4 linked regions of the Homo sapiens genome follow. The protein of the gene in region 3 purifies or fractionates together with the protein of the main gene of each other region. This does not show direct contact. Each region holds a gene or a part of one and is shown on either strand. Other genes may lie near its edges. The genes, in order: SUSD1, CACNA2D2, RNASE13 and PPM1A.

Region 1 (7,382 bases), on a different chromosome or scaffold from region 3:
GCATTTTGCTAAGATGGTGCAAGCTGTCTATAACTCTCTCTCTTGTCTTTTAGAAGTTGATCTCTTAGAAGATGATGGAAGTTTCAATATTTCAATATTTAATGAAACTTGTTTGAAATTGAACAGGCGTTCTAGGAAAGTTGGATCAGAACACATGTACCAAGTAAGGAGATCTCTTATGCTTTCCATTAAAGAATTGTGTCATTTAAAAATTTGGGCGATCTCCAAGTAAGTATCCAAAGTATTTAAAAATGAATGAACTTCTAGACAGTTTGTGATTGTTGTTTCTAGAGATGGATGTAAGATGTGAGATGGGTGTAAATGAGGTACTAACTTGAAGAAAGATACTATATTTGGTGACTTGCTATCATTTTCTGTGCCTGGCATTTCAAGCTTATATTTTATTTTAATGCATTAAACAATACAGCTTATTTTGCTATCAGATTCACATTTGGGCATGGAATTTATTTTTATTTTTTATTTTTATTTTTTGAGACTGAGTTTCGCTCTTGTTGCCCAGGCTGGAGTGCAGTGGCATGATCTCGGCTCACTGCAATCTCTGCCTCCGGGGTTCAAGCGATTCTCTTGCGTCAGCCTTCCTGAGTAGCTGGGATTGCAGGCATGAGCCACCACGCCCAGCTAATTTTGTATTTTTAGTAGAGATGGGGTTTCTCCATGTTGGTCAGGCTGGTCTCAAACTCCCAGCCTCAGATGATCTGCCCTCCTCGGCCTCCCAAAGTGCTAGGATTACAGGCGTGAGCCACCACGCCCAGCTGGGCATGGAATTTTAAGGAACTCTTTGGATGGCTATTGACCCTCATTTAACTTGATTTTTTCTTAAACATCATCAGTAAAATTGTAAGTAAATTCAGGCAGGAACTGAGATTTATTTTGTGTCATTTTTAGTGCCTAGCAAGTCATCTGGTAGAGAGCAAACTCAGTAAGTATTACATTAAAAAAATTTTTTTTTCTTTTTTGAGACCGAGTCTTGCTCTGTTACCCAGGTTGGAGTGCAGGGAGGCGATCTTGGCTCACTGCGACCTCCACCTTCCAAATTCAAGCGACTCTCGTGCCTCAGCCTCCCAAGTAGCTGAGATTATAGGTGTGCACCACTATGCCCTGCTGATTTTTGTATTTTTATTAGAGATGTCGTGTCACCATATTGGCTAGGCTGGTCTCAAACTCCTGACCTCAAGTGATCCACCCGCCTCAGCTTCCCTAGGTGCTGGGATTACAGGTGTGAGCCACCGCGCCCAGGCCAAAATTAATTAATTTATTCTATTTACCAGAAGTATATCACATATTAGGACTTGGAAGTTTCCAATTCAAACTGATAGAAATATATAGGTAAATAGGCAACTACAATATGGTATAATGAGTGCTTTGACAAAAAGTAAATTAATAATGGAATAATAAAAGTAAATAAGTATAAAAATAGAGATTTTATTTGTGTGTGTGTGTGTGTGTGTGTGTGTGTGTGTCCAGGTACAATTTTTTTGTTTTTTTTGAGATGGAGTCTTGCTCTGTCGTCCAGGCTGGAGTACAGTGGCATGATCTTGGCTCACTGCAGCCTCCCTCTCCCAGGTTCAAGCAATTCTCCTGCCTCAGCCTCCCTAGTAGCTGGGATTCCAGGCATGCCCCACCATGCCCAGCTAATTTTTGTATTTTTGGTAAAGATGGGGTTTTGCCATGTTGGCCAGGCTGGTCTCAAACACCTGACCTCAGGTGATCCAGCTGCCTTGGCTTCCCAAAGTGCTGGGATTACAGGTGTGAGCTACTTGCCAGGCCAGGTACAATTTTTTTAACCAGAAGCAAAGACTGTTATACTGAGTCATAGAAAGTAAGTAGGAATTGGCCAGGCGTGGTGGCTCACGCCTGTAATCCCAGCACTCTGGGAGGCCAAGGCGGGTGGATCACGAGGTCAGGAGATCGAGACCATCCTGGCTAACACGGTGAAACCCCATCTCTACTAAAAATACAAAAAATTAGCCAGGCGTGGTGGCGGGCACCTGTAGTCCCAGCTACTTGGGAGGCTGAGGCAGGAGAATGGTGTAAACCTGGGAGGTGGAGCTTGCAGTGAGCCAAGATCGCACCACTGTACTCCAGCCTGGGCGACAGAGCAAGACTCCGTCTAAAAAAACAACAACAAAAAAATTAGATAAAGGTTAATTTGTGTGACATGTGAAACACTTTTAAATTGACTGGAAAAAAGTCAATATTTAAAAGCGGTTTGCTAAAGAAAATAGACGTATTGCCTAAACACGCATGAACACATTATGCCTCACTAGTAAGTGGTCCAGAAGAATAGGGGACTGCCAGACCGTGGAGGAGCAGCTCTGACGATAGCATAGTCTAGGTTGTGGCCATGGATATGGGTGGCCAAAGTGGAGTGAAGGAAGTTCATAGCATTGAGCTCAAAGAACTCTGAGGCCAACATTTGATGGTTTATCTGTAAGGACCTTTAAGTTATCCAAGAGAATTCAAAGAGTTTGAGAGAGAAGAATCCTTATGAACCACCTGTCAGGGTCTTGGATGACTGTCAAAATTGATAAGAGAAGAGTTAGTGATTGATGGGAATAAGGAGGGATTGAGGGTGGTATAGACAATGGTGCTAGCATCAGTGGCAACACCGAGCATATGTCTCCACCAGCTAATGCACCCTAACTGATCAAGGGCTGATCATATTACTTATAGGACCTTCACGAAAGTTTTTTCCCTATAATTCCCTGCTGGAGCTGGCAGTGCGTAGAGGATGGTTAGGTGACAGTGTGTGATATGACTCCATGGATCAAAAGCCCTTTTACCAGAGGTCTAATAGGAAGGGTCCAGTGAAGTACCATGGCATTTGCTTTGAATGCATAATCTGGGGTGGTCCCCATATGTTTTTGTTTTTTTTTTCTTCCATGGGTAGGGTTAAGGAACCCACCTAGTTTAAGTACTCTGTTCTATGAGGCTTGTCCATGGATTTCTTACAATGAAAAGAAACTAAAAGAATTTTGGTTGGGTGCAATGGCTCACACTTGTAATCCCAGCACTTTGGGAGGCTGAGGTGGGCTTGAGGCCAAGAGTTTGAGACCAGCCTGGGCAACAAAGTAAGATCCTGTCTTTACAAATTAATTGTAAAAATAATTACCCAGGTGTGGTGGTGCATGCCTGTAGTTCCAACTACTCGGGAGGCTGAGGATCACTTCAGTCCAGGAGTTTGAGATTGCTGTGAACTAAGATTGTGCCACTGCACTCCAGCCTGGGTGACAGAACAAGACCCTGTCTCAGAAAAGAGACAGAGAGAGAGAGAGAGAGAGAGAGAGAGAGAGAGAGAGAGAACGAAGTATTCAGAAGGGAAGGAGGAAAAAAAATAATTTTGCCCATTAGCTCCAATGTAATCTCTTTCACTTGCGTTATAATCAAGGGATTATTTTGGAATAGACTAATATTTTCTTCATCTGAGATGTAGTTATGCATATTAAGCTTGGTCCTATACCTGATTGTGAGGACAGGTAAGGTAGCTTTGTCAAGTCCTTCCTCAGGTTAGCTTGCTATTGTCTTAAAAGTAATTCTAAGTGGGCAAGGATAAATAAAAGGAACTTTCTTGTTTTAACTCCATTTTGCTAATAGTCTAGGCACCTGTTAGTCAATGGAAAATCTAATGTAACACTTTCTTTTAATCTCATGACAGTTTACCGTTCTGGGTCAGAGGTGGTATCTGGCTAACTTTTCTCATGCAACATCGTTTAACTTCACAACGAGGGAACAAGTGCCTGTAGTGTGTTTGGATCTGTACCCTACGACTGATTATACGGTGAATGTGACCCTGCTGAGATCTCCTAAGCGGCACTCAGTGCAAATAACAATAGCAACTCCCCCAGCAGGTGGGTGTAGACGTCTTTCTTTTTTGTGCCTCAGGACAAATTACCTATGTGAATTGAGCAGTGTGGGCGGGCATAAGAGTGCTAGTTTGGGAGTCAAGAGACAGGGGTTCCAGTTCTAACAAACTTTGTTAGCTGCGTCTGGGGTTCAGGATGCCTGAATCTTACCACTTATCCCCTTCCCTGAAGGGTACTGGCTCATAGAGGGCACAGACCAAGGATAGACTGATTTATTCAGAGCTCCCTGGGAGTCCTAAGTTGAGAATTCCATAAAGCATTTTATCTCTCACCCCAAATTTAAGACAACTGAACCCTAAGGGTATTCATTATCGGCAAGTAGAACGAACTTCCAGGAGACCAGAAACGTGGGTCCCACAGTGTCAGGCACTGGCAGGCAATACAGCCTCAGGACTAGGCCACGCATAAGCAAATTAACTTGACATAGAGAACAGAGGCCTGATTAAGGTCAGGCTCCTTAGAAATTCTTCCCTTGCAGTCTTTTGAGGAAGCCACATAGGTGCCAGCTGTATTAACTCCACAGCTCCCCCTAGTGGGATGGCTGTGGTGCAGCCATCACTACTATTTCTTTTGTTCTTTAATCCTGTGGGTTTATCAGACAAATTTACGGGCAACCAGAAGAGGCTACCCCTTTGAAGGAAAGCAGCAGAAGAGGGTAGGTCCTGCTGCTACCTCCCTGAAGCCGCTCTGTGATATTCACCTCTGCTCTTTGTGGGTCAGGGTGGGCAGTTTGGCCTTTGCATTTAGAAGACTCTGGGCCGGGTGCGGTGGCTCACGACTGTAATCCCAGCACTTTGGGAGGCCGAGGCTGGCAGATCACCTGAGGTCAGGAGTTCGAGACTAGCCTGGCTAACATGATGAAACCCTGATTCTACCAAAAATACAAAAAATTAGCTGGGCATGGTGGTGTGTGCCTGTAATCCCAGCTACTCGGGAGGCTGAGGCAAGAGAATCACTGAACCCGGGAGGCAGAGGTTGCAGTGAGCCGAGATTGCGCCATTGCACTCTAGCTTGGGCAACAAGAGCCAAACTCCATCTCAAAAAAAAAAAAAAAAAAAAGACTCTGAAATGTGTTAGACACTCATGAGAGCCACGTAGCACCTGAGGCTGAAAATTAATTTTTTTTTTTTGAGATGGAGTCTCGCTCTGTCACCCAGGCTGGAGGGCCAGGTGCCATCTTGGCTCACTGTAACCTCCACCTCCTGGGCTCAAGTGATCCTCCTGCCTCAGCCTCTTGAGTAGCTGGGACTACAGGCGCATACCACCATGCCCAGCTAATTTTTGTATTTTTAGTAGATACAGGGTTTCACCATGTTGGCCAGGCTGTTCTCGAACTCCTGACCTCAAGTGAGGTCTTCCAATTCAGCCTCCCAAAGTGCTGGGATTACAAGTGTGAGCCACCGTGTCTGGCTTCAGTTTTTATCCTATTTTTTTTATCAGATTGAGCCTGGCACCTTGTCCTGTCTGTATCAGCAGAGTTTGCACAAGGAGCACCTCATGACATCATAAACCTACCCCCCAACACATTTTCAGCTGCATAGTAATGCTCGCAAATTGAATATGAATTCCCTCCAATTATTAAATTCTTAGAGAAATAAAAATCTATAAATAAAATCTAGCTGGGTGCAGTAGCTCACGTCTAATTCCAGCACTATGGGAGGCCAAGGCGGGTGGATTGCTTGAGCTCAGGAGTTTGAGACCAGCCTGGGCAACATAGTGAAACTCTGTCTCTATAAACAATACAAAAATTAGCTGGGTGTGGTGGCATAAGCCTGTGGTCCCAGCTACTTGGGAGGCTGAGGTGGGAGAATCTCTTGAGTCTAGGAGGTTGAGGCTGCAGGGAGCCGAGATTGCGCCACTGCACTTCAGCCTGGGCAATAGAGCAAGATCTCCTCAGATAAAGAAATAAGAATAAATAAATCCACCTCTCCTTGTAAAATAAACTAAAATGTAAAGGCATGAAGTCCCCAGTTTTTTCTATCCTACATCTTTTCTGCTGAGTCTTGGCCAGAGTGTCCTGCTGAGTGGAGAGTGTGTTCTAGCTGTTGAAACCTAGGAATCTTGTTTTGTAATAGATGCTACTCCTTTGGTGTATAGGAGACTGGCAAATGCTGAGGTTTTGAGGCAGGCACATACTTGGCATATTCTAGGAATGTCATGGAAACCAGTATGGCTGGAGCAGAGAGCTGGGGACAGTGGTGAGAGATGAGGTCTAAACTCTAGCATGAGTATAATAAATGAGAGGCCCATGGTGTCAGGTTCAGAAAGAAGCCTGTTGTTACCTTCTCCTTTGCCTCCCTAAATTACTAGTAGTAAGTATAATGTAGCATGCCATAGTTCAGCCTCTGTAGGTTACCAAGCAGTCTGGAGTCTACCACGTGTCAATTTAAACTTAAATTGGGAAATGTCTTCTCGTCAGGGTAGTTGGATTCATTTTGACACTGTACTCTCCTTGAAAATTTTAGACATTTGCAGTGGTGGCTCTAGGTCTTTCTTGATGCCCGTTCCAAAGATTAAAACCTTTCCATTTTCGTTGCTCCCTTGAGCCCTATTTCTACCCAAGCTTCACCATTGCTGAAGATCTTTATCTGTTTAGTGAAAGAGTCTCCCTTCTTTCTGGGCAGGACACCCCACATTTATCTTAGGAAACTCTTCAAGTGAAATGCATCATCTTGCATGCTTCCTTCCCTGTCTCCATTTCTGACTCTTTTCTCTGAATTTCTCTAAACCCAGAAAGATCCCCCAAATTGTTTTAGTTCTGGACTCCACAGGCTCCTATTATTGAATGTCTGCCTGTGAGTCCTACTTCCTGGTTAGGAGATTTTCCCTTTTGTCTCCCATGGGGAATTACCCTCAGCTGATCTGTGAGCTGCTGTTGGGTTTCCAGAACCTGAACTTTCACTGGTCTGATGAGGTCCAGGAAACCCCCTGGGCTAGTGGCATTTCGCCCAAGCCCTACCTTCTTGGAATTGAATTTCCAAGACTTAAATGGTCGGTGCTTCTTTGATGGAAACTGAAACACTTCTTGCTCCCGCTTCCTTTTCTGTATCAGAGAGATAAGCCTGCAATGTTCAAGGTCCCTCTGAGAACGTTCTTACTTAGCAGGTCCTGCTCAGCTCTAAGCCTTTACCCTTCCATTTAAGTTGTTTCTGTTCCGTCTTTATTGCCAGGTAGGACTCATACCTTTTGCTAGGTCTTAGTACTTTTCCTTCTCTATATTTGCTTTTTGTTTTCAGACTTAGATTTTTGTTCTCCTCACATATTACTTTGGAATCTGCCTCCGAGGTCTCTGTAGAGAAAGAATGATGTCACAGAGCTCTCGACCTGCCATAAACATCCAGTGTTAAAATACCTTCTTCCCACTTTCATTTTCACTAGGAGGCATTTCTTTCTATTCAGTTCGGCCTAAACCCAGGCCTGGGCTTTATCAATTTTCATTCTCCCTGGACCTTGTTTAATACAGCTCTATTTCCCAGGCAGATGTCCTTATAGCCGGTG
Region 2 (7,860 bases), on a different chromosome or scaffold from region 3:
TGGGGGCACTGGAGAACAGGGCACAGAGGCCCAGCAGAGAGGACAAAAGAGGCGGGCAGGGAAGGATAGGTACAGCTCGATGAAAGACCTGAAGAAGGGGGACAGGGGAAGAGGGAGGGAAAGACACAAGGGGAGGCAAAGCAGTGAGGGCTGCCCCTCAGCCGGCGGTGGTGGCCTGATGCTGGGGAGGGCATAACTGGAAAAAGGAGGCAGGTGAAAGGTGTGCTCGGACTCAGGTCCCCCACACCCAGCCGGACAAGTGCACATACATGTGCATACATGTGTGCAAACATGTAGCCTCCTCCTTGTTTGAAACTCTGATCCAGGTCCAGGTAAGGTGAGACAGCCCAACCCCCCCACCCCCCGCCCAAAAAAAAACCCTGAAGCCCTGTCCTCCCTTCAGCAGTAACCCCTCTGCCCTTCTCAATCCAGCAGCAGCCTTGGTCCATTTTGCCTGGTGGGCAGAGAGCCATGCTGCCAGAGCGATTGCAGAAATCATAGCTAGCAGACCCCAAACCCACACTTGCTTAAAATCCAGCAGCTTGTGAAGCTGGGCCCCTGTGCACTGGCAGACACTAATGAGAAAATGACTTGCTCATCAGGGGCCTTCCCCACTGAGGGGTTGTCACTCCAGTGCCATGAAGCTGGGTTCCACTCTCCTCCTTGGAAATCCACCTGTATCAAAGTGTCATCCCAGCCTGGCCACACTGACCCAGCAGAAGGTTCTGGGAGGTCACCCATCCCTGAGCAGCCCCACAGAACCTTCTGGCCCGAACAACAGCCTAAACCTTTCTTACCAGTTCAACAAAAGCACCAATTCCACTGGCCATGGTCATGTGTGGGCCCCTTCCTCCCTCCAAGGATCAATGTGCATCCTCGTCTGCGGGACCAGGGCAGCTGAAGGGCACTGGCTGTCACAGCAAACCCTCTGTGTTGTTGTACCATTAGTCACCTCCCCCTGGACCCTCAGAGCGGCACAGCCCCCACCCCACCCCCACCCTCATTCTCTAATTACAGTTTGCAAGACATGTCCCAAACCCCCAAATTAGCTCCAACTATATCGACAACAGCGTCCAGCTGGAAGTGTGTCGCTGCCGTCACACCCGCCTCGCCATCTTCTGGCTGGGGACAGAGGGATAGGTGCCTACTCTGGTCAGGTTCTCACATCGGCCTTCTAGAGGAGACTCGTGCAGGCCCAGAAGCCATCTGACCAACTGCACGTTGCAGGGAAAGGGAGTGAGGTCGGGAGAGGTGGAAAGAGACATCCACTTAAACCTTCACTCAAGGAGCTATGAAACGGCTAAGAAAAAAATAATTGTGGCTTGGCTCGTGCTTGGCTTTGAGGAAGAAAGAACAACAAAAAAATAATGCTTTTGCTTTTTTTAAGCACTATGATTGAAGTCCATTTCCATCACGGCAAATGAAAGACAATAACGCATCCACCAGCCCTGAACTTCCATTCGATTCTTTTCTCCCTGGGCAACCCCCAAACACACATGTGAAAAATCCAGACGGTTGACAGAGGACACGTCCGTGCGGCACTTGTAATTTGCCAACTGATCACCTGCCTGAGCACAGCCAGGCTGTGCAATGAGAGAGACGACAAGACGGAGAGAGAGACCCAGAGAGGCGGTTTTCCTGAGTTTGTTTTTCCCTCATCTTAGAGAGCCTACGAACTGGAGTCGGCAGGTTTTGTGGCAGAACCAGGGGCTCTTACCCTTGGGCAGAGCTGGTTTAAATGACGCAGAGCCAGCCTCTCCCTTTCCCCGAGGCCAGACCCTTCCCCTTGGCCACCAGCAGCCCGACGACTCATGCCCCAGTCTCCAGGCCAGGACACTGGTGAAGGAGTCCAGGGACAGGTGGCTCCTCAGACCCGGAGACAGATAACAGAAGCAAGGTGGTCACCGTGCCCCAAAGGGGGTCTGGGCACTGACATAGGGCTGAAGCACAGTGTCAGGAAACTGATACGTCCTAAAGGCCACATGCACTGAACATCCACTCCCAGCCCCAGACACATCTGGCTAAGCTCACCCGTAGGAGGCAGCCCGAGTTTGCTGGCTCTTGGGGAGGAGGAGAAGGCTCAGAAGGACCAAAAAACCTGCGGAGGCTGGCAGAGCCAGGAGAAGCTATTACTCTGTTGGCAGCAGCAGCAGGCGCAGGCAGGGGTCCTTCCCACCATTCACCTTCTGCCCGGACCCCAACGCCTTCACCTCCCAACTGGGCTCTCCAGGGTACTCTCTCCTCAGGTGGAGGGGGGCCAAGAACAGGGGACACTGCCTCTGTGGCACTGGCCACAGCAAGAAGGTGCTCGCATCATCAGCATACAGCTCCCCACTAAAGGAAAAGGCCCTTGAAGGCAGGTGTGGAGATGTCCCTCACCTCTGGCTGTAAAGCGCCGGATTCCCACCAGGGAGGGAACGTGGGGCAGATGCGCGGCTCCAACTCCGCCGGACAGGGGTCGCTGGCCGCCCCTCTCACCCAACCCGGGTTTCCCTCTCACCGGGTCAGCGGCAGGGGAATCAGCTGACAAGCTCGGACCGCCCCCCCCCAACTCCTCCCGGGGCTTGAAGATCTTGCCTTGCCTCATTCGGGGGATTTGGGGGAAGCAGGGGCACCGCGGGGAAGTTTCGCGACGCAGCCAGAGCGCCGGGACCGCGGCTGCCAGCCTTCGGGGCTTGGGGCCGTCGCCCCCGGGCGCAGCGGGCAGCCGGACCCAGCGCCTCTGCCCTGGCGCGGAGCGCAGGGAAGGAGTAGCGCGGACCGGGGGCAGAGCGGGGCGCAAGGCTCGGCCGGGGTCTCGCGGCCGGCCGAGGCCACTTACGTGTGCTGCTGGGGGAAGCTGTAGGCAGAGGCGCCGGGGGCGGCGAGCAGCGGTAGAAGCGGCAGCAGCAGCCACAGCGGGCGCGGGGGCCCGGACGTCGGGCGCCGGGTGCCGGGGCCAGGGTGGGGGCCGCAGCCGGGCCAGGGGCGCGCAGTCCGCGCTGGGCCGGGCCGAGAGGCGCCGCAGGTCCGAGCCGGCACCGCCATGTTTCCATTCAAGATGCGGCGCCGCGGGGAGGGGGGGCAGTGGCGGCGGCGGCGGCGGCGGCGGGGTTGGGGGGGCGCGGGCGGCGGGCGGTAACTCGGCCTCTCCTCCGCCGCCGCCTTCTCCGCGAGGGGCCTCCGGGGCTGCACGGGCCGCAGCGCCTCTGCGGGCTGCGCGCTGCTATCTCCCTGCAGCGCTGGCTCCAAGCGCTCTGAGCGCCCGGCCCGGGACCTGCGCTCAAATAGCAGCCGCCGCCAACCTGCCGGCACCGCCCTCTTCTCTCCCTCCCTCCCTCTCTCTTCCCGGGCTGGCCCGCCCCCGCGCGCCCCCGCCGCGGCCACGCGCCCACCCGTGCCCGCGCGCCTCTCGTCCCCGCGCAGCCCGAATCCTGCCCTACTGGCTCGGGCGTCCTGCGCCCCAGCTGCTACCCGAGCGCCCCGGGTGCGCCCCCGCCCCCACACCTCAGACCCTGCCGCTCCTCCCCACCCCACCCGCGGGAAGAGTCCCGGGCCCCGCGGCCCAAGGCAGGAGCATATGTGACCCTTTTGGGGGCTCGACCTTCAACAGGCTTAAGGCCTAGAGTCACAGGTTTAATGGTGGAGTGACAGCTTCAGCGGAGACCAGAAAAGGAGGCATGCTGAACTTACAGCCCCCGTGGCTCTAGCTATCTTTAAGATTTCTCTCTGTCGGGGGCTTGCACGCCCGGCTGCTGGCAGAAAGGGCCTGGACCTCCTGGTTCCCTAAGCGGAAACCTGGGCACGGCTGTACGGTTGTGGGGGGCTGGGGACGGCAGGATGCAGCCCTCTGCAGCCACTCGCTTCGCTTCCCTGGGCTGAACAGGCACTGTGTGCAGGCCTGTCCCAAGCCCCAGTTCCCGGAGTTTGCACAGCCTCTGTTTAGATTCTTCCAGAGCCAGGAAGCTCATCTCTGCACAACCCAGTCCTTTCTGTCCTGGAGGCCCCTGGCTCTTCCCTGCTGTGGGCAGAAGACTGGGGCTGGTGTCAACCTTGACTCCACAGCTTGTGGCCCTTTCAGAGCCTCAGTGTCCTCGCTTGTGAATGCTTGTGTGGGTGCCCACTCCCATTTCCAGGATGAAGTGAGAATGGGGAGAATCTCTTGGTAAACTGAAGCATTCACAATGAGGGGAGACCATCCCTAGGATTCTACTGAAGTTACCCTGGAACCCAGCTCTGCCTCTGGTGCAGATAGGATGAGAGAATGCTCCCCACCAACTTGACACAGGGCAGGACCCCCTCAGCAATAACTGCCCACAGACCTGGCCTATCACGAGGAATGAGGGATAGTAACCAGCTGGGCAGGATGGTTCGGAAATGTCCAGATGCCCCACCTCATGGTATCAGTGGCTCTCCTATCACCCACTCACAAGTCAGCCCAAGGAGGGCTTGCAGTTGAAAGGGAATAGTAGCCCCTGGACTGAAAAGGGTAGGGGTAGGGGCTGGAAATAGGGCCTAGGACAGCCTTCCCTTGCTGCCTAGTCCTGCCTTGGCTTCTCCAATCCCAGCAAACCAGGGCTTGACAGGGAACAGTTTCCTTCATTTCTTGAAGTGTCCTCCTCCCTTGACCTGAATGAGCCTTCAGGGGCCAGACAGGTTTGCCAGCAGATCCCAAACCATGAGACCCCAAAAAAAGTATCAGAGGAAGGCAACGCAGGGGCCAGGGGCCTGGTGGACAGGTGGGACCTGATGGACTATGGGAGACGATAGTCCAGCTCTTTGGGGGGACAAGCAGGGTCCTCACTGAGCCAGTTGCCCCCCTGCCACCTCTGGACACAATGGGAGGGCAGGGGGGCAGGGGTCCTGCTCAGGAGTCGACAAGCGTGAGCTCAACAGCTGCCTTCCCAGCCCTGCCTGCTGAGACCTGTTCCCAGCATCTCTGTCTTCCTCATGCCCAAGGTAGGGCTGGCCTGTGATATCCTCTCTTACCTGTTTGCTGGACATATAATACCTGTGCCCATGGCCCCAGGGGACCATCATAAAGGACATCATTCCTCTTGGGTGCCCTGTCGGGGGTGGGCGCCTTCCCAAGGCAGACTCTGCAGTGGCCTGAGAAATGTGAGGGCCAGCCTCCCTGCCCTCCAACACCAGGGTAGCAACGCTATCCCCAAAGTGCCCAGGCCGTCAGGCACATGAAGTCAGTCTAGGTACAGTGGGTGGGTTTTGGCAGTTGGGTATTTCAGTTCTAGCCTCCACAGATGTGCATCTAATTGAGGCTGCTGGCACCAAGGGAAAGGCGGGAGATTTTGGTTGACAGGCCGTTAAAGGAAGACAAATAAGGAGGGGGGGGGTAATTAAGAGTAAACAAGTGGTAAGTGTTTACGAATTATAACTTTTGAGGCTTACAACATCCTCAGCCCTCTTGGTGGCTGGCTACAGCCACACGTTAAGATCTTGGGAGAAAAATTTGAGCCTTCCCAAGGAATAGGGGGACTTCCATGGCAGGCACATTGGTAAATGTGGGGCTGCCCACCTGGCCCAAGTTGCCTGTGCTGGAAGACGTAGGGTGGCAGGGGCAGGTGAAGCTACCCTGACAGGGGGCCTGGTAGGTGCCAGTTCTGCATGGGAGGTCAGCTCAGCAGGTCAGAAGAGACTGATAGAGCCATAGGGAGAAACTACTATGTGCCAAGCAGGCCATGGGCTCAGTTGTGCCACTCGAGGCCCGTCCCAAGCCCCAGCTCCCGGGGTTTGCACAGCCTCTATTTAGATTCTTCCAGAGCCAGGAAGGTCATCTCTGCACACCCTAGTCCTTTCTGTCCTGGAGGCCCCTGGCTCTTCCCTGCTGTGGGGAGAATACTGGGGCTGGTGTCAACCTTGACTCCACAGCTTGTGGCCCTTTCAGAGGAAGCCCATCAGGAACATCCAGGACGCCTGTGGTGGCAAGATTTTCACCCTAGCCTGCCCCGCGCCCAGTCTCACCTTTTACCAACAGGCTGGACAGCTCCTTATTCAGAGAAAACTCCTGCCTCGGGCTTTACTCCTGCAGTTCCTCCTGCCTGGAACACCCTCTTTTACCTCTACCATTTGAACTCAAGATATTTATGAGCCCATTAATACCACTTATACCAGGAAGCCTTCCTGGGGTACTACCACCCCCAACTGGATGGGCCTCCTCCTCTTGGTCCTGTCCCTCCTGCTTCCTGCCCCGGCCAGTAGTATGCTGTGGCCTCTGCCTTGGGTTCAGAAACACACCTGCACTCTGGCCTCTTTTTTTTGAGACAGTGTCTCACTCTGTCGCCAGGCTGAAGTGCAATGGCATGATCTCGGCTCACTGCAACCTCCAACTCCCTGGTTCAAGTGATTCTCCTGCCTCAGCCTCCTCAGTAACTGGGATTACAGGCACGTGCCACCGCACCCAGCTAATTTTTGTATTTTCAGTAGAGACGGGGTTTCGCCATCTTGGCCAAGATGGTCTTGAACTCCTGACTTCATGATCCGCCCGCCTTGGCCTCCCAAAGTGCTGGGATTACAGGCATGAGCCACCACGCCCAGCCCATTCTGGACTCTTGTCGAGCGGAGCCCTGAGGCTCCCTAGTCCTTGTCACCCCTTCCAAGCCTCATGCAGTGCTTAGCCATGGGAGGGCACAGGAAGTATTAACATATAGAGTCATTTGGGGCCAGGCATGGTGGCTCATGCCTGTAATCCCTAGCATTATGGGAAGCCGAGGTGGGTGGATCACCTGAGGTCAGGAGTTCAAGAGCAGCCTGGCCAACATAACGAAACTCCATCTCTACCAAAAATACAAAAAAAAAAAAAAAAAATTAGCCAGCTGTGGTGGCCGGCGCCTGTAGTCCCAGCTGCTCAGGAGGCTGAGGCATGAGAATCGCTTGAACTTGGGAGATGGAGGTTACCATGAGCCGAGATCGCACCATTGCACTCCAGCCTGGGTGACAGAGCAAGACTTTGTCTCAAAACAAACAAACAAAAACAAAGAATCATTTGATGGCATGTCAAGGGAGCCCAGGGATGTGCCCAGGAAGGGTGGTCTGGCCTGGGCATGAGGTGTGTCAGCTTTGACATCAGACATCACAGGTTGTGTAAGCAAGTGATTTTGCCTCTGCAAGCCCATTTCTTCATCCATATAGTGGGAGACACCCCCATGTGGCAGGGATGGTCTGAAGACCCAAAGCATCTAACACCCTGAGGGAAGACTTGGTACTTCAGCAAGGGCTTAGCGAAGGGGAGACAACAGACTCAGCCATCCCCAAGAAGGGCAGGCCGTGTATGCAGGCAGACAGGGAAATATTCCTGGAAAAGGGGGAGGGATTTCAGCTCAGTCTTGCAAGTTGAATAGGTTGGGATGGGCACATTAGGGAGAGGAGGAGGGGACATTCTTTTGGGTGAGCATGACTTGAGCCAACATTTTCCCTTCTGAGCCCTGTTTACCCAGCTCTGCCTCCACCTGGGTCCGTTGAGCTGGCCCCAGCCTTGGCCAGTGTTCTGCTGTCCCTGCCTCATCCAGCCCACTCTAAGGTACCTATTCTCTGCCTGCTTTGTGCTGGACTTGTTGGTCCCCAAGGGCCCCCAGCTGGGATTCATTCCACGTATGGGGGACTACCAGCACTTGCACCTGCCAGTGGCTGCCATGGCTCGCTCATCAGTTCCTTGGGGATACCCAGGGATGCAATGTTCCCCAAAATGCCCCTGTCTGAGCATGGTACAGATGCTCAGTGGCCTCCAGATGCAATCAGACAGGACCCTACCTCTGGACACGTCAATAATTTTTCAAGGATCCTTGGCGCAATATCAACCGATGGTCAGTTTAGTACCATTTACCATAATATATGGAGGGGGCTGGAGTTTAACCCTTTCAGACATTG
Region 3 (7,061 bases):
TTTTGTTGGTCCTTTGATAAATAAAGGTAATGGGCTCATTTTTGTAGACTGAGAAAGTGAAACATACAGCAAGTTGAGGTCAGATGTGGGACTTTCTTCAGGTCCTTGAATTCCCATGACCTTTCCTGGAACAGCTGTGGGTCAGGAGGAGGCAGCACTGACAGAAATTTGGAATCCTTGGCTCCCAGACCAATGCGTTTAGACAAGCCAGGATGGAGGAAAGAGGAAACTGATTTGGGGGTTCACTGGGGCCTTGTCTCACAAGCCCTCCCAGCTCCCCATTTATCTACAGAGCAAAGTATCATTTCCTTAGCCTGGTAATCAGGGTCTGTCACAATCGGGCAAACCTGTCTTTCTAACTTTATCTCTGATTTTTCTCCCACTGAGTGCCTCAACCCCAGCCAGACCGGTTTCCCCCCATTTTTCAAGCATGTCTTTCATAATCCTCTTTATCTCCACTGAACTTCTAACTTCACCATGAGATCCATTTCCAAGCCAGGGTGACCCTTCAGGAAAACTTTCTCTGACCCTCCCAATTCAGAGACATCTTTCTCACCTCTAAATTCCTACAGCATTTACTGTCTTCAGAATGTATAATTTTCTGCCTTGAATCACTGGTTATTTCTTCATGTGTATGTATTATTTTTCTCTTAGACTGTCAATTCCCACAAGATGAGGACCACCCGTTACATTTCTTTTGCACATTTCACAGTATATAGCATAATGCCTTGCATATAAGTGACCCTAACTGATTCAACTTTTAGAAGGCATTCCGTCTGCTCCTGAATGATCCCAGTCTGAGGTGGGATTGCCTCCAGCCCACAGAGATGGTTAACAGATGAGGAAGTGACAATGCGGCTTCTAGACTTCAGCCCTGGGTTTGAGGTGATGCTATGAGAAGAAGGTTGAGATGGCTGAGGCAATCCTTCAGGTTCAAGGACAGCCCAGGAACTGTCCATGACACAGTATATTGTTTGAGCAACTTGAATTGGACAGGGCAAAAGATAATGCCAATGAGATCATGGTGAGCCCACTCAGAGCAAAATTTTGGGGTTCTCCTCAGTCATAGGGAGTCACCCTTGCACCTGCCACCCTAGCCAGTTGTTCTATAAATGCTTACCATTGGGGAGGGAAGGGAGAGAATGTGTAAATGATTACATGCAGAGGGTCATCTTTACAGGAAAAACAACTCAGTTATTGTTTCAATGGTGAACTATCAATACACATTTTTCTGGTAGAATCAGCACCATTACAATCAACATTTGTTTAACAAAAATATTTTGATGTCCCAGATGTTTATCATTTTTTTAATACATAAGATACAAGTAAGTCTGCTTTGGTTAAGAAATTTGATTAGCTAATTATTTAGACCAGGGCTTCACAACCTCAGTGTTATTTACATCTTGGTCTGGATAATTCTTTGTTATGGGAGCTGTCCTGTGAAATGTGGGATGTTCAGCAATATCCCTGGCCACAGGCCAGTAGCAACTCCTGGTTGTGACAACCAAAAATGTCTCCAGACATTATCCAATTGTCCCTGGAACTACTGAATTAGACATATGACCTTGAGCAAGCCACTGTCACTCTAGAACTTAGTTTTTCATCCCTAGGGAAATGCTTGTGTATGTAAAACCCGGTGTAATGGGGTAACAATCCCACTAATCTCAGGCTTACGGAGCACATGACACCATGATGAGGTTGTCAGAATGGATGAAGTAATCTTATGCATCAGCACCTCTAGGACAGGATTTTAGGGAACAGATCACCAGGATTGCAGTTGGGAAGCCGAAGGCTCATCATCATTAAATCATTTAAGTCCTGAATGCTTTCCTCTATAATGTGCTGTTCAGTTTCTGTAATTGTGCGGCAGAAGTGAGTGGTGTTGGGTGGGGGGAGCGAAGAGCGGTGATGGGTGGCTGGGGAATGAAGGAAGAGGAAGAACAAAAGGTATAAAAAGTCCCTTTCTATTCTCAGGGAAGCTGCAGCCTTGAGGGACCAGGGAAGAGGTGGCATGATTCAAGGCAGGGACCACAATGTGGTTGGCTTCCTCAAAGCAAAGGCCTGAGTCAGCCAGGCTCAGGCGACACCCTGCATTGGCACCCGCTCAGTGTTGTCTTGTTGAGCAGCCTGAAGAATACAGATGAGCCACCTGCCCATGTGGGCTCTATCCTCACTTGCTTGACGGTGCCCACTTCCTTGGCGAGGTCTTCCCAGCAGAGGCTTTCTAAGTGGGACCTCTGGGTTGAGTCTTTCTATGAGCTAGCACCATGGAATAGATGGGGGCGAGGAACGGTGCAGCAGCAGGGTTCCAGGTAGAGGAGACAGCAGCAGATAGGGCATAGAGGAGGTGGGGGACAAGGTGGGAAGCAGGCAGGGATGCAGATGCAGTTGTACACATGGGCAGGTGCAAGATCATGGGAAGTCTTATGTCCTGTGAGATGTAGTTTGGACTATACCCTACGACAAGCTTGTCCAACCCATGGCCCGCGGGTCACATGTGGCCCAGGATGGCTTTGAATGCAGCCCAACACAAATTCGTAAACTTTCTTAAAACATTATGAATTTTTTTGCATGTTTTAAGCTCATCAGCTATCGTTAGTGATAGTGTATTTTATGTGCGGCCCAAGACAATTCTTCTTCCAATGTGGCCCAGGGAAGCCAAAAGACTGGGCACCCCTACCCTATGAGAAACAAGCTATTGCAGACTTTTAGACGAAAGAAGGGATCACACTTTTTCTCTTGAAGTTGTATAAGAGATATATTTGAGTTGAGTCTTACTGGAGTTGGAGTGTGTGTGCTGTCCAGGCGAGACGAGAGCATCCACTGAGGAAGAAATAAGAATGGAAGAGATGGGCTTGGGAAAAGTTTAAGATTGTCAGGGCTGTGTGACTGATGGACTCAGGCTCATACTGAGGACTCACCATGTGCCGGGCACTGGTCTAAAAACTCTTGATATACATCTTAATGGATCCTCATACTGCCGTGAGGTAAAAAATACTATCCTCATGAACAGATGAAACAAGGAAGCTTTCAGTGGTTTCGTAAACAGATAGATGGTGTGCAGTTTGTAAGCTGCAGAGGCAGGATTCAATTCCTGGTCTGTTTCACTCAAAAGCCTTGATCTTAACCACCATGCAGGACCGCCTCCCCGTAGCTGGGATTGGGGAGGTGGAGGGGTCTAGGATCACTTTCAGGTTTCTTGCATAGGTAACCAGGGAAACTGAGTTGACAAAACAGGAAGAGAAACAAGTTATGGGGAGGATGGATTCCATTTTGGACTGTGGTTTGTGCTGTCAGAAAGTGCCAGTTTAGGGGGCTCTACATGAGGAACACCAATCTTTCTCTCTGCGGCCTTACTCCCTCCTCCTGAGCTATACTGAGGGTGTTGGAGCACTCAGCTTTCTGTGTTCTGACTCCCCTTTTCTGCTGCCCAGCAAAGGTAAAAAGGCTCTCCTAAGAGGAGGCCCCAAATCTGGAAGACACCTTGCAGACTAACAAGGCTGAGTGACCTGTGGAAGTCAAGGGCAAGAGCTAGCAGTTTCCAGGGAGCTGGCTCTTTGATTCTGATGAAAGGGAAGATGTTGATGAAAAAGATAGGAGCGTGGCCCTTTCCCCAGCATGGCAAACCACTCAGAGATCAACCAACAGTACGAAACGGATCATGCCAGGCTCTGGCATCCACAGCTTTTCATGTTCAGGTTATGCTTTCAAATCCAAACTGCCAAGTTTGAGGCTTCAGAGTCAGCATGCAGAGATTTCCAGTAGTGCTCAAACTCTGACAGGGCCTGAGGTCACAGGTGAAGGCTGTGGGTGTGACAGGAGTAAGGCTGATAGGGACCGTGGGGAGTCCACATGGAGGTCTTTGATTCTCAGCCCAGCACTTTGGTGGGAGGCCCCTGAGTACATGCCCTCCTGGGCTCCCGTGAGTGGGATGACAAAGTGGCGAATGCTCTGTTCTCTGAGGGTCAGGAATAAGAAGCACTTTGTTCCTCAGAAACATAACAGTGCTTTCCTACTCACCTTGCCACGAGAGCACAGGCTATGGAACAGAGAAAACATCAAAGAAAGCCCAGGCACTTAGGAACTTTTGGCAAGGAGATTGGAAGTAAGTGTTCCAATGACACTGTAGAGGAGGAGACCAGATAGTAATGCCTCTTTCCTCCCACCCATCCAACCCTCTTAGCACAGGGGCTCATCAAACTCGGGGACATTCCCTCCTCCCAGACTGATTTTTACCTAGAAACCTTTCTAGCCTCTCCTCATCTCTTGACTGTCTTGGCCTTGGCAAGAAGAATACACGTCCCTACCCAGCTATCTTCAGCTCCTGTCCTTCCTCCCAGCTGCCAGAGAATTGTCAGGTCAGCCTGCTCCTTCTTTCTTCTCTGCATTTTTTACTAGCAGGAGTGCCAGGGGCCCAAGGACTCTTGGGAAGAGTCTCTCACCCAAGGACCAGTTAGAGCTCTTATTCTGCAAATGTAGCTCACGGACTCTGCAGAGGCTGAGATTCTGTGGTGGACCAGGGGAGCAGGGCTGGCTGAAGGTGGCTGGTTGTCTGGGTGGCCTTGGGCAAGCATCTCCTCTTTCTGGGTCATGAGAACTTGGTTATGGGTGAGATGATCTCTAAAGTACTGTTGGGTTGGGAATGCTGGAGGCTCTGGGATGTGGCAGACAGCCACTTCAGGCCCACTGCTGCCCCCAACCACCTTAACTCTACCAGCAGGAGGAATGGCACCAGCTGTGACCCGGCTCCTTTTCCTCCAGCTTGTTCTGGGGCCAACTCTGGTCATGGACATCAAGATGCAGATTGGCAGCAGGAACTTCTATACCTTAAGCATTGACTATCCCAGGGTTAACTACCCAAAGGGTTTCCGGGGCTATTGTAATGGTCTGATGTCCTATATGCGAGGCAAGATGCAAAATTCAGATTGCCCAAAGATCCATTATGTGATACATGCCCCTTGGAAGGCCATCCAGAAGTTCTGCAAGTATAGTGACAGCTTCTGTGAGAATTACAATGAATACTGCACACTCACCCAGGATTCCCTCCCCATCACGGTCTGCTCCCTGAGCCACCAACAGCCACCCACTAGCTGCTACTACAATAGCACCCTAACCAACCAGAAGCTCTACCTACTCTGCTCCCGCAAGTATGAAGCTGATCCAATAGGTATCGCTGGTCTCTATTCGGGAATTTAATTCCTGAGCCACTCCCCAACCTCTACCACCACAGGCCAGCTGTCTCCATTTCCAACACTCTGATCCCTGTAACAAGACTTCCTTCCTGACTTACGAGGCAGGCAGGGTCCCCTCCCAAGAGACCAGGTGGGTGCGAAAATGTCCAGGGCTTTGATCACCATGCAAAGTGGTGCTATCTTCTAGGTTCTTTCCAGCTTGTTTACCCCCTCTTCGCCCCCACCTCCTCATCATCCTTCCTCTCCCAGAGACAGTAAAACCCACCCAAGAAGTTGACTGTGTCCAGTTGGCAGTGACTGTCCACCCACTGGGCCAGATCCTAAGTCCTGGATGGAGGCCCAGGGCCTCAGCTCACACCATGGCAACAGGCACCAGCTCCGAGTCTCACCTCCCCATCCCCACCAGCCTTCTCATGTCAGCCTCCCCCAGTTCCCTTATAATTCCCTCCACTCACCCACCTACTCAGGGGATATGGCTAGCTATAGGAACCTCCCTGAGGCCCTCAGACTCATGTTAGCCTCACTTCCCCACAACCCCCAGTTTCCAGCCTGCTTCTCTCTGTGAAATCATGGTTTCTCCCTTCATATAACTGTCCTCTCCTGCTTCCTCTTACCATGGAGCCTAGGACTGTCTCCCCCACACTCCCAACAACCGTAGTCACCCTGCCTTCCTTTTTCCAACCTCTTTTTCTTCCAGTCTTCTTACCTTGGCTCACTGGCATTTCAAGGTATCTTCTCTCACCCATTCCCCAGAGGTTCCTGCTTCCCTTCTCTTCCAGAAGCTCCTCCCAAATCCCCCAGACTCCAGAGTCTGCCCCTGACCAGGCAGCGAATGAGGCAGGCCCGGCTCTAATCGAACATAAATTTCTAAAACCACATCTGAGTATGTAAGATGTAACCATTGGGGGAAACTGGGTGAAGGGCACACGAGCCCCCTCTGTACCATTTTTTGTAACTTCCTGTCAACCCATAATCAATTCAAAATAAAAAGTTAATAACACACATCTGACTCTGTTGTGATTTAATTGCTTTTTCTTCAGTGCACCAGAACTCCTGCTCTTGGAATCCTGGCAGCCTGCCTCATCTGGCCATCTTCCTGAGCTACCCTTAGCAGTCAGTAAGCTCTTCTGTCCCATGTGCCCCATGATGGAGGTGATGTGGGGTAAAACTTAGTTCTGGGCTGGGTGTTGAAAATAGACTCTCCCCTTACCCCAGCTCTGGAACAAATTTGTAATAGAAGTCAGGCAACCTTAGCTGGCTTCTACTCCTCCACCCAAAAAACCTGAATTGCAACAGATGAGGAAGGTGGAGGGACAGGGAAGGATCTAATATGTGATATAGTCATAGTCCATCACGTGAGGAATTGCTACACCCTTTTGAGGGGTGGGGGTGGAGAGGTGGATATCAGTAATGTGTGAACACAAGTAGTAGATACTTTTACCTCCACATCTGGTTCATCTCTTTACTCCAAATATATTCTTCCATCCTGTTCTTGGAAGCAGCTGTTGAGGAGGAATGCTAACTGATGGCTGGTAGGCATAAGGCTAAGCAGAGCGAAGGGTGTGTGGTGGAGAACCCACCCTCCTGTGCTGCCTCTTCTCCCTCTCTCTACACTAGTAGGCTCATCTGTCCCTCACAGACAGAGATTTTGGCTGCTGCACACACAGATGTTTATTGTTTTCCAAGCTCCCTGGTGTTAAACATGCAGGGTCAGGGGGCTAGCAGGCTGAGATGAAGCTCCTCTCTACTTGGTCTTCTTATCGTAGGTGCCAGAACCCTTGTAACCACTCACATAGCCTGTGTTGTCAGTCATCTCTTCCCGTCCCGCAATGCCCTTGCCCTTGCCACTCTCATCAAAGCGCTCCTTGT
Region 4 (7,382 bases), about 39 Mb from region 3:
AAGCCATAACTTAGAACATTATCATACTTCGCACTCTACCACAGATTTAGACATTAAGTATTTATTGTAAGTATGGAATTGGTTCTGTAATTTCAACTGATATGAATTTCTAAATATAAATAGTACTTCAGTTTTTCCTCATTCATGCTGGAATAAGATATAAATTAAATACAATTAAGTTACATTTAATCACCTCACAAAATAAGAGGGATAATGAAAAGATTTTGCTGGTATTTAACTACTTAAATCTGAGACATTTCACATTACTTTCCCCACTACTCCCCTAACTTTACATTAATTTTAAGGCTATATATACAAATATGTATATTTCCAAGTTAGGGAAAAAACAAATATAACAAAATGGACTATACTGGTTTTTATACACAAAATTTTGATTTTGTATTCAATGTTGTATTTTAGTCTTACATTTCAACAGTTTTCTAGTGGGAATCTGCCTACTGAATGATTACATGGTGATAAATACAATATTCAACCTAAAGAGACAAAAATACAGAAGGGCACGGAACAGTAATCTTTTCAATGCGACAGATTTTAAAACTTACTTTCACATGCTTAATCAGAGGAATTTAAGCCTAAATTAAATTAGGTTATTTTTATATCTACAATTCCTTAAGCTTTGAAAGTTATTTGTAAAGGCCAACAGCTAAATATTATCAACATGCTATATTTCAAATCACAAATACATCTTAACCACTTGGATTCTAAAGACATGGGCCAATTAAAAATCACAGGCAAACACACACTCACAAACACACACACACACACCCCTACCATAGAGTGTTAGATTGTCAAACTTTGACAATAAATATTTTAATTAAACAGTAGGCAAATCCAAGCTGATACACATCTTAATGAAAAATAAGCAGCCTGAAAGAAACCTATTTAAAAAATAGATTAAGGTACAACCAAGAATTAAATCTTTTAGTCTTTCTAATGGAAGGAAAGTTTCATCTATGCCTTGAGTGACAGTGTTGTCCAATTAAAAGAGACTAACATCTTTCCCTATGAGAAACGTCTCATTACAACGGCACAGTGTTTTAAAAGGCCAGGGTAAAAGAGGAATTACACATACATGATTAAGTTTCTTGTTTGTTAAATCAAGCTTTATTGATAAAATGGAATTCAGAATATCTTACTAGGAACAGCAGCAGGCCCAGCCAATCATGATAGCAAAAATGTGGCAGTTTCCTACTATATGTAGGAAGCTGCTGCTTATCAATTAGTAATTAAATGTAAGGACTTGAAAAGAGGTGCAAAGAAACAAGGCATTTAGCCCCAAGATTGAGATTCTTATGAATACACTGTATTATTACCTGCAATACTCATGGAAACAACGAAGGAACATCCTGAAAGACAGTTAAATGAAGGGACTGGCTTTATCAACAATGCCAACTCCCCTACCAAGAACATTTAAGATAGTTTTCAATAACTCCTTGGATGTTCAGCTTTGTAAGATTTTGAGGTTATTTTCCATAATCATCTGCACATTTGAGCGTGTAGCTGACATGGCTGCTGCTCTCCCTGTTCCAACCCCAAGTCCAAACACAACATGACTTGAAAGGGCTATATATCTGTTGCATCACACAATAAGCCAAACATTTCTTGTAACTTTGATAGTGATTTAAAGCAGTTCATAATTAAATATGAGCATTTTGTACAAGGACAATTACACTTTACAAAAAAACAAAATCATACAACAAAAATTGCTGGAGTCTGATTTACAACACGAATTATGGTTTGAAATCACGCTTACATAAGTCTCAAATTTACAAAAAAAAAAAAAAAAATCAGTTCTGGGCTAGCTGTTGTACTGCTGAAGTTCTCTGATGTAATCATTCTCACCCATGTCATATCCCCTTCCTTAAAGTTGAGGATGGATGTTAAAAGTTTCAACAAAGTTGAGCTGTACTCTCCTTTGGAGGTGAAGGTAAACTCCATGGCTAGATGAGCAGTTTTACCACATATCATCTGTTGATGTAGAGTCCTTTGTAAAAGGAAGCAAAATAAGGAACAACGTTAAAATTTAGCGGTGCCAAAATACACCATACTTTCTGGATAATGGAGAAAGATAATGTTCTGTAAAGATGACTTTTAGAATATAAATGTTTTTTAAAGTATATAAGTATATATGTGTACATATGAAATAGCAATGTTTAATCTGTTCAAAGAATTGTTAATCCTTTGTTTTGTTTTGGAAAATATTTGAAATGCGGTTTTATGATGAGGCTGTCCAAATGTATTACTCAATCAATAAATCTACTAAAAAGAATTTTTTAATGAAATCCAATACAGTTTTAGAATACCACTTTTATAAACCTTTAATGCATCAGAAAAGATTAAGAACTCAATATGTGAGGAAGCTTCATAATGCAATACATAAAATATTTCAGAGCTGTGCCCACATGATCTTTAAGTTATCACTTTTCTATAAACATCATACAACAGAATTGCAACAGAACACTTAACTGGAGAGTATGGCATTCTAATGTCTATTTATGCAAACAATTCTCTAATATTTAAGTGAAGTATATACTTCAGGATTCCTGACAAAGGTATTTCCAACCATAAGAACTATTTAGTTGAGACAGACATTCCGAAGTTCTGCTGCAGCTGCTTACAAAACTCAGAATAAGACAATATTCTGAGTAGAGATAGTCCCAACTTCGGGAAAAAAAAAAAAAAAAAACCATGTAGTGGAGGCAAACCTTCTGAAGTTGATTGTTTGTAAAGACTTAAAAAATCTAGAATAATTCAAAAGGACTTTCTTCTTTTTTGAGAGAGGTGGCCACTCACCATGATTATGTCCTCAATCACTAGAACTGTGGTGCAGGCAGAGATCAGAGCAAGCAGAGTTCAGAGCAATCAATCAGGGGTGTGTGTAAGAGAATGGGTACAGTGAACAGCTCTGCAAAAACAGGTAGGAAGGATATGCATTTAGAGTGGAGGGGAAGGGAAAGCAGAGGGAGCTAAAATGCTACTTACAGTGTCGTCATTTTTGTAAGGATTCAGTCTATTGTAAACGGCTTCAATAACATTCCTCCTAAGTGTAAAAAAATGCAGAAAATTAATTCTTCAGAAAGCAAAACATTGCTTAGTAACTCATAGCCAGGTGTTTATTAAAATTTCTAAGATAATCTTATACTCAGATATTATTTTAGTTCTATTTCTTGCTGTCAATAGTGAGCCTCACTTTTAAGATATTTGGGCTCCTATGTTAAAGCAGAGGTGAGTCTACTCTAAAATGTGTTATAACACTCTACCAACCCAGTTAATAGAAGGCTAAAAATTACAGATTAAAAAAAAAGTCTATATAGTCTACTTCCATTTGAATTGGTTTAAATGGTTATGAGTCATCAATGGCAATGCCATTCTTAAGATATAATACTAACATAAGCTAGTTGAGTTGCATCGTAGTTTTGAAGTCTCAGATTATACTTTATATTTAAGCTTCTACTTTTCTTAATGCCCTTTTCAAAAGTTCTATTAAAACTGAAATGTCAAATAAGACATTTCCATGACAAGTCTAGGAATTAGTTTTGAGTAACACTTTATTAAAAATCTGTAGTATATTTATAAGTTATAGTCTCCCTACTTCCAAAATTGACTTGAAGCAATTTTATAGATCGTTTCATAGAAAGTCATATGGAAAAAAAAAGTTTCCAAAAAATAAAAGCTTCAAACAGGAGCTTTTACAATCACTATTTAGTGATTACAAAGAACATGGTCACACTTGCAAAACACAGTAGAGAATCGAGAAAATTAGTCAATAATATATCTTCACTGTAAGTACAAGAAGTCTTCACTTGTAGTTTTAGCACATTTACTCTATATCCAAATTCAAGCTAAAGGTATTTGCAAGTTTTATGTTTGTAAGTCAATTATATGGATATTTGAGGTAAAAATGTTTTAACCCTTGGAATTGCTTGAATTTTCCACTTTATTATGTAAAGGTGTAAGCTTAATATTTAACACAAAGTAGTCCAATTCTATGAACTAAAGTGGAAAGGGAAAAGACAAGAAATATATTCTATCTTCTTCCCTGACACCTAAAACCAACTAACCAGCAATCAACAACCAAAAATACTGGGAAAATCAGGCATAGAAACATGGTCCATATGAGGAAGGGGAATTTTCAGGGTGTTAAGTTACTCAGGGATTGACCAAATCAAATTATACTACTACTAACAACGACACTTAGAATTTTGTAAATTTTTATGTAGTGCTATGTAATTTAGTTTAAAAAGTTCTTTCAGTATATTATCTCGTTTATGCTCTATGAGGAAATCAATGCCAACCAAGCTTCCAATAAAGACAACCCTCACTGCAATTAGTTACAATGATACTGATACCTATGTCTAAACAAACTCTAGATATTCTAATACTAAAAAAAAATTGAAATCACAGGTTAAAACACAGATAACTGCATCAGTTCAGAAATTAGGCAAACAAACATTTTATCAATGAATACCTAACATTTTCATACACTGACATAAAGCATAAGAGTGTACAGAATGTAACTTACTTGCTTGCCAATTCACCCCCTGGTGGGAGGCTGGGGATGTTCTCACTCGCTAATGTGCGCATCACATGGACTAAGTCGGGGACGCCTTCCCCCTGCTTCTTTATGATTTCTGGGAATCAGAAGTACTTTTTTTGTAAGTGTTATCCAAATTTAATTGAAAAGAAAACCGAAACAAAGATAACCTAGCTTTTTAAAGATGGCATTTACCACATCTGAGATTTTTCTAATCTGGTATCATTTAAAAAAAAAAAAAATCAGGTTGACCTTTGAAGATTTATGACAAAAAATGCACAAAATGACATATAAGATTAACTTCAAATCAAAATTAAAATGTGAAAAAATATTTCATGTTAAATCAGCATATTATATAATCAAGGATATGTGTGCACAAGTGAGAATACCCTTTCTTAAGATGTCAACTAGTTTCTTCTTACATCACTCCTCTCTTTAGACTGGAAACATGTTTCCTGAACTTTGCCCTATATAATACACTGCGTGGAATTTTAAAAAATAAACAATTTCAAGATTTGAAAATAACAACCCTTAATTATAGGGGAATTTATAGATTATATACTAACTCAATTATTTTTATGTATATATTTATATTTGCAAAATGATACTTAAATAGCATGCACAGATTATGTACTTGAACATCACTGTCTCAGTTTAATTCTTCTCTAAAGTACCTTTAAACAATATACTGTATAGATATATAATACCATTTCCTTCACTGATTACTTCAACAAAGCCTTGAATAGAAAAGGTCTAAATTTCCTTATAAAATGTTTAAAAAGAGAACCATTTGATAAACCATACAACTGCATTTAAAATAATTTTAAAATATCCAGTTATTAAAAGGGCACAGCAATATGATCTGCAGTGTTGTCATGCAGATGCATACTATTATTCACATCACAAAATATAAAAAATTATGAACAAAGAACCTTACAAAGAACTCTACAACTATTCCTCTAAGTATAAAAAGTCTTCACTTGCAGTTTTAGCACACATACTCCACATGCAAATTCAAGTCAAAAGTATTTGTAAGTTATATGGTCAAGTTTTGTTCAGTTTGTTTTTCAATGTTTATGGTAAGAAATGGTATTTTATTTGTCATTAGTGGGGCAAGAAATCATCATTCTGCTTCTCAATTTGTAAATACCTTTGAAAATAACAATGTGTATAAAGATTCGTCCTTTGATCAGGCCTCAAAATTTTTAAAGACATGGCTACCCATAATATTTCTTTAAATGGTTCAAACTGTCCTTTTAGAATAAAGGCCAAATTTTTACCATCTATTATTTTTTGCCTTAAAAAAAAAAACAGTCTTAAATCTGAACAAAAAGCAAGGATCTCAGATTTGGTTTGCCAAGTTCCTTTATTGTGTAATCTTTAACATCTAGTATATTTGTTCTACATGGTTCTAATGCTGGAAATCTGCTGTACAAAAATAAAGGGATTTGATGTTTACCTAAACTGCACAATTTCACAATCTAAAACTAATACACTTAACATACAGTCTCCGCTAAGCCAATACAATTATTTGGATAGATAACTAGATACAATAGAAATAAACACTGATGATAAATTGAATCAATAGTTTCAGGTCTAAAAAACATTACCTTGAATCATCTATATTTGATGTATCTTACATCTCTTTTGTTAAAATATAAATTAGGATATTTTAACTGTGAAGAAAATTACAGGAAAACAAATTCTTGTAAAAAAATAATGTAAAGCTTTAAAAACAGTTAATATCTCCTGTTCCACGTGGGACAACGCATTTAAACTACCTGACCATTCATACTATACTAGCCTTGCTTCTGTCTGCTTTCAAAAAAGAAAAATAAATGAATTTTAAGAAATATTCCTTTAATTTCTGTTGACCTATACGTTTTACTTAGAATTGTAAAAAGACTGAACGCTTTTTCTAAAGAATATTTATATATAGAAGATCCATGTTTCACATACATATACACAAACACATTCTGCTCCTTTCCACTCCCCTCCACCAAGTTTCAGGGATTCTATCAGTCATCTCCAAATTAGCAACTTTAAAGCTAAGGTAGTCAGTAGCAAAGATTTTGAAAATATATACACAAAAGTATAATTTTAAATTGGCTTAGAAGGACCACAAAATTAATAGTAGTATAAATTATGAGCTGAATCTTTTCACACCCCCAGAGAGTCAAGTATTTAGAAGGGAACAAATAAGAGAAAAGGAGAGCTGGAAGGCCTTTGTCCTTTTCTATGGTGTGGACAGAGAAGCCAAAAATGTTCCAAGCAAATAAAATGAGGTTTAGTAGGTCACAGCAATCTAGTGAAGGCATGTATTTAAAGAAAGAAGAGAGAGAGAAAAGAAAAAGGCATTCAGGTGCCTGCTTTGGAAGCTGAAGGCAGTATTTTTCACTGAGGACACACAACTTTTACAATACAAACAGTTACATTCTATGTTTTAAAATAGCAGCAATTTTAATGTAATATTTATTCTCTAGTTGCAGTCTCATCAAATCTGAGTAAAAAATACCATATTTAATTTATGACAATCTCCAATTGAATGGTACAAGTATAATAACACTTTAACATATCAAAAATATTGAGTATCAATGTAAACTCTGTCCAGGTGGCAACTCTTGCTTGATAATAAGAAATATAAAACTTATTATTGTAACAAAATAACGTAAAGTGAATATTTCATAATTCCATCTAAAACTTAAAGTGTACACACTAAAGAGAAAAGTAGCAATTCATTTCTAAAATTGGATCCCATTTCATAGTAAAAATATTAAAATACTTATTACTTCTTTAAACCAATAAGAAAACATGTCTGCCCAAGTTA

Evidence for each region.
Region 1: the proteins of RNASE13 (region 3) and SUSD1 purify together in Homo sapiens (affinity purification with mass spectrometry; 3 studies listed by BioGRID and IntAct, with this or other methods). This does not show direct contact.
Region 2: the proteins of RNASE13 (region 3) and CACNA2D2 purify together in Homo sapiens (affinity purification with mass spectrometry; 3 studies listed by BioGRID and IntAct, with this or other methods). This does not show direct contact.
Region 4: the proteins of RNASE13 (region 3) and PPM1A purify together in Homo sapiens (affinity purification with mass spectrometry; 3 studies listed by BioGRID and IntAct, with this or other methods). This does not show direct contact.

Annotation. Positions count from the first base shown.
Region 1 is NC_000009.12:112,094,957-112,102,338, reverse strand, and holds part of SUSD1 (sushi domain-containing protein 1 isoform 2 precursor), read left to right. Parts: intron 1-53; coding exon 54-163; intron 164-3,676; coding exon 3,677-3,869; intron 3,870-7,382.
Region 2 is NC_000003.12:50,500,397-50,508,256, forward strand, and holds the start of CACNA2D2 (voltage-dependent calcium channel subunit alpha-2/delta-2 isoform b precursor), read right to left. Parts: upstream 3,239-7,860; 5' UTR 3,028-3,238; coding exon 2,822-3,027; intron 1-2,821. UniProt on the Homo sapiens protein: The alpha-2/delta subunit of voltage-dependent calcium channels regulates calcium current density and activation/inactivation kinetics of the calcium channel.
Region 3 is NC_000014.9:21,031,953-21,039,013, reverse strand, and holds RNASE13 (probable inactive ribonuclease-like protein 13 precursor), read left to right. Parts: upstream 1-4,206; 5' UTR 4,207-4,358; intron 4,359-4,717; 5' UTR 4,718-4,725; coding exon 4,726-5,196; 3' UTR 5,197-6,196; downstream 6,197-7,061. Other genes in the region: TPPP2 (tubulin polymerization-promoting protein family member 2), read right to left, coding at 6,937-7,061. UniProt on the Homo sapiens protein: Does not exhibit any ribonuclease activity.
Region 4 is NC_000014.9:60,287,076-60,294,457, reverse strand, and holds part of PPM1A (protein phosphatase 1A), read right to left. Parts: exon of another isoform or gene 5,903-7,382; intron 4,653-5,902; coding exon 4,544-4,652; intron 3,062-4,543; coding exon 3,004-3,061; intron 2,006-3,003; coding exon 1,976-2,005; 3' UTR 1-1,975. UniProt on the Homo sapiens protein: Enzyme with a broad specificity. Negatively regulates TGF-beta signaling through dephosphorylating SMAD2 and SMAD3, resulting in their dissociation from SMAD4, nuclear export of the SMADs and termination of the TGF-beta-mediated signaling.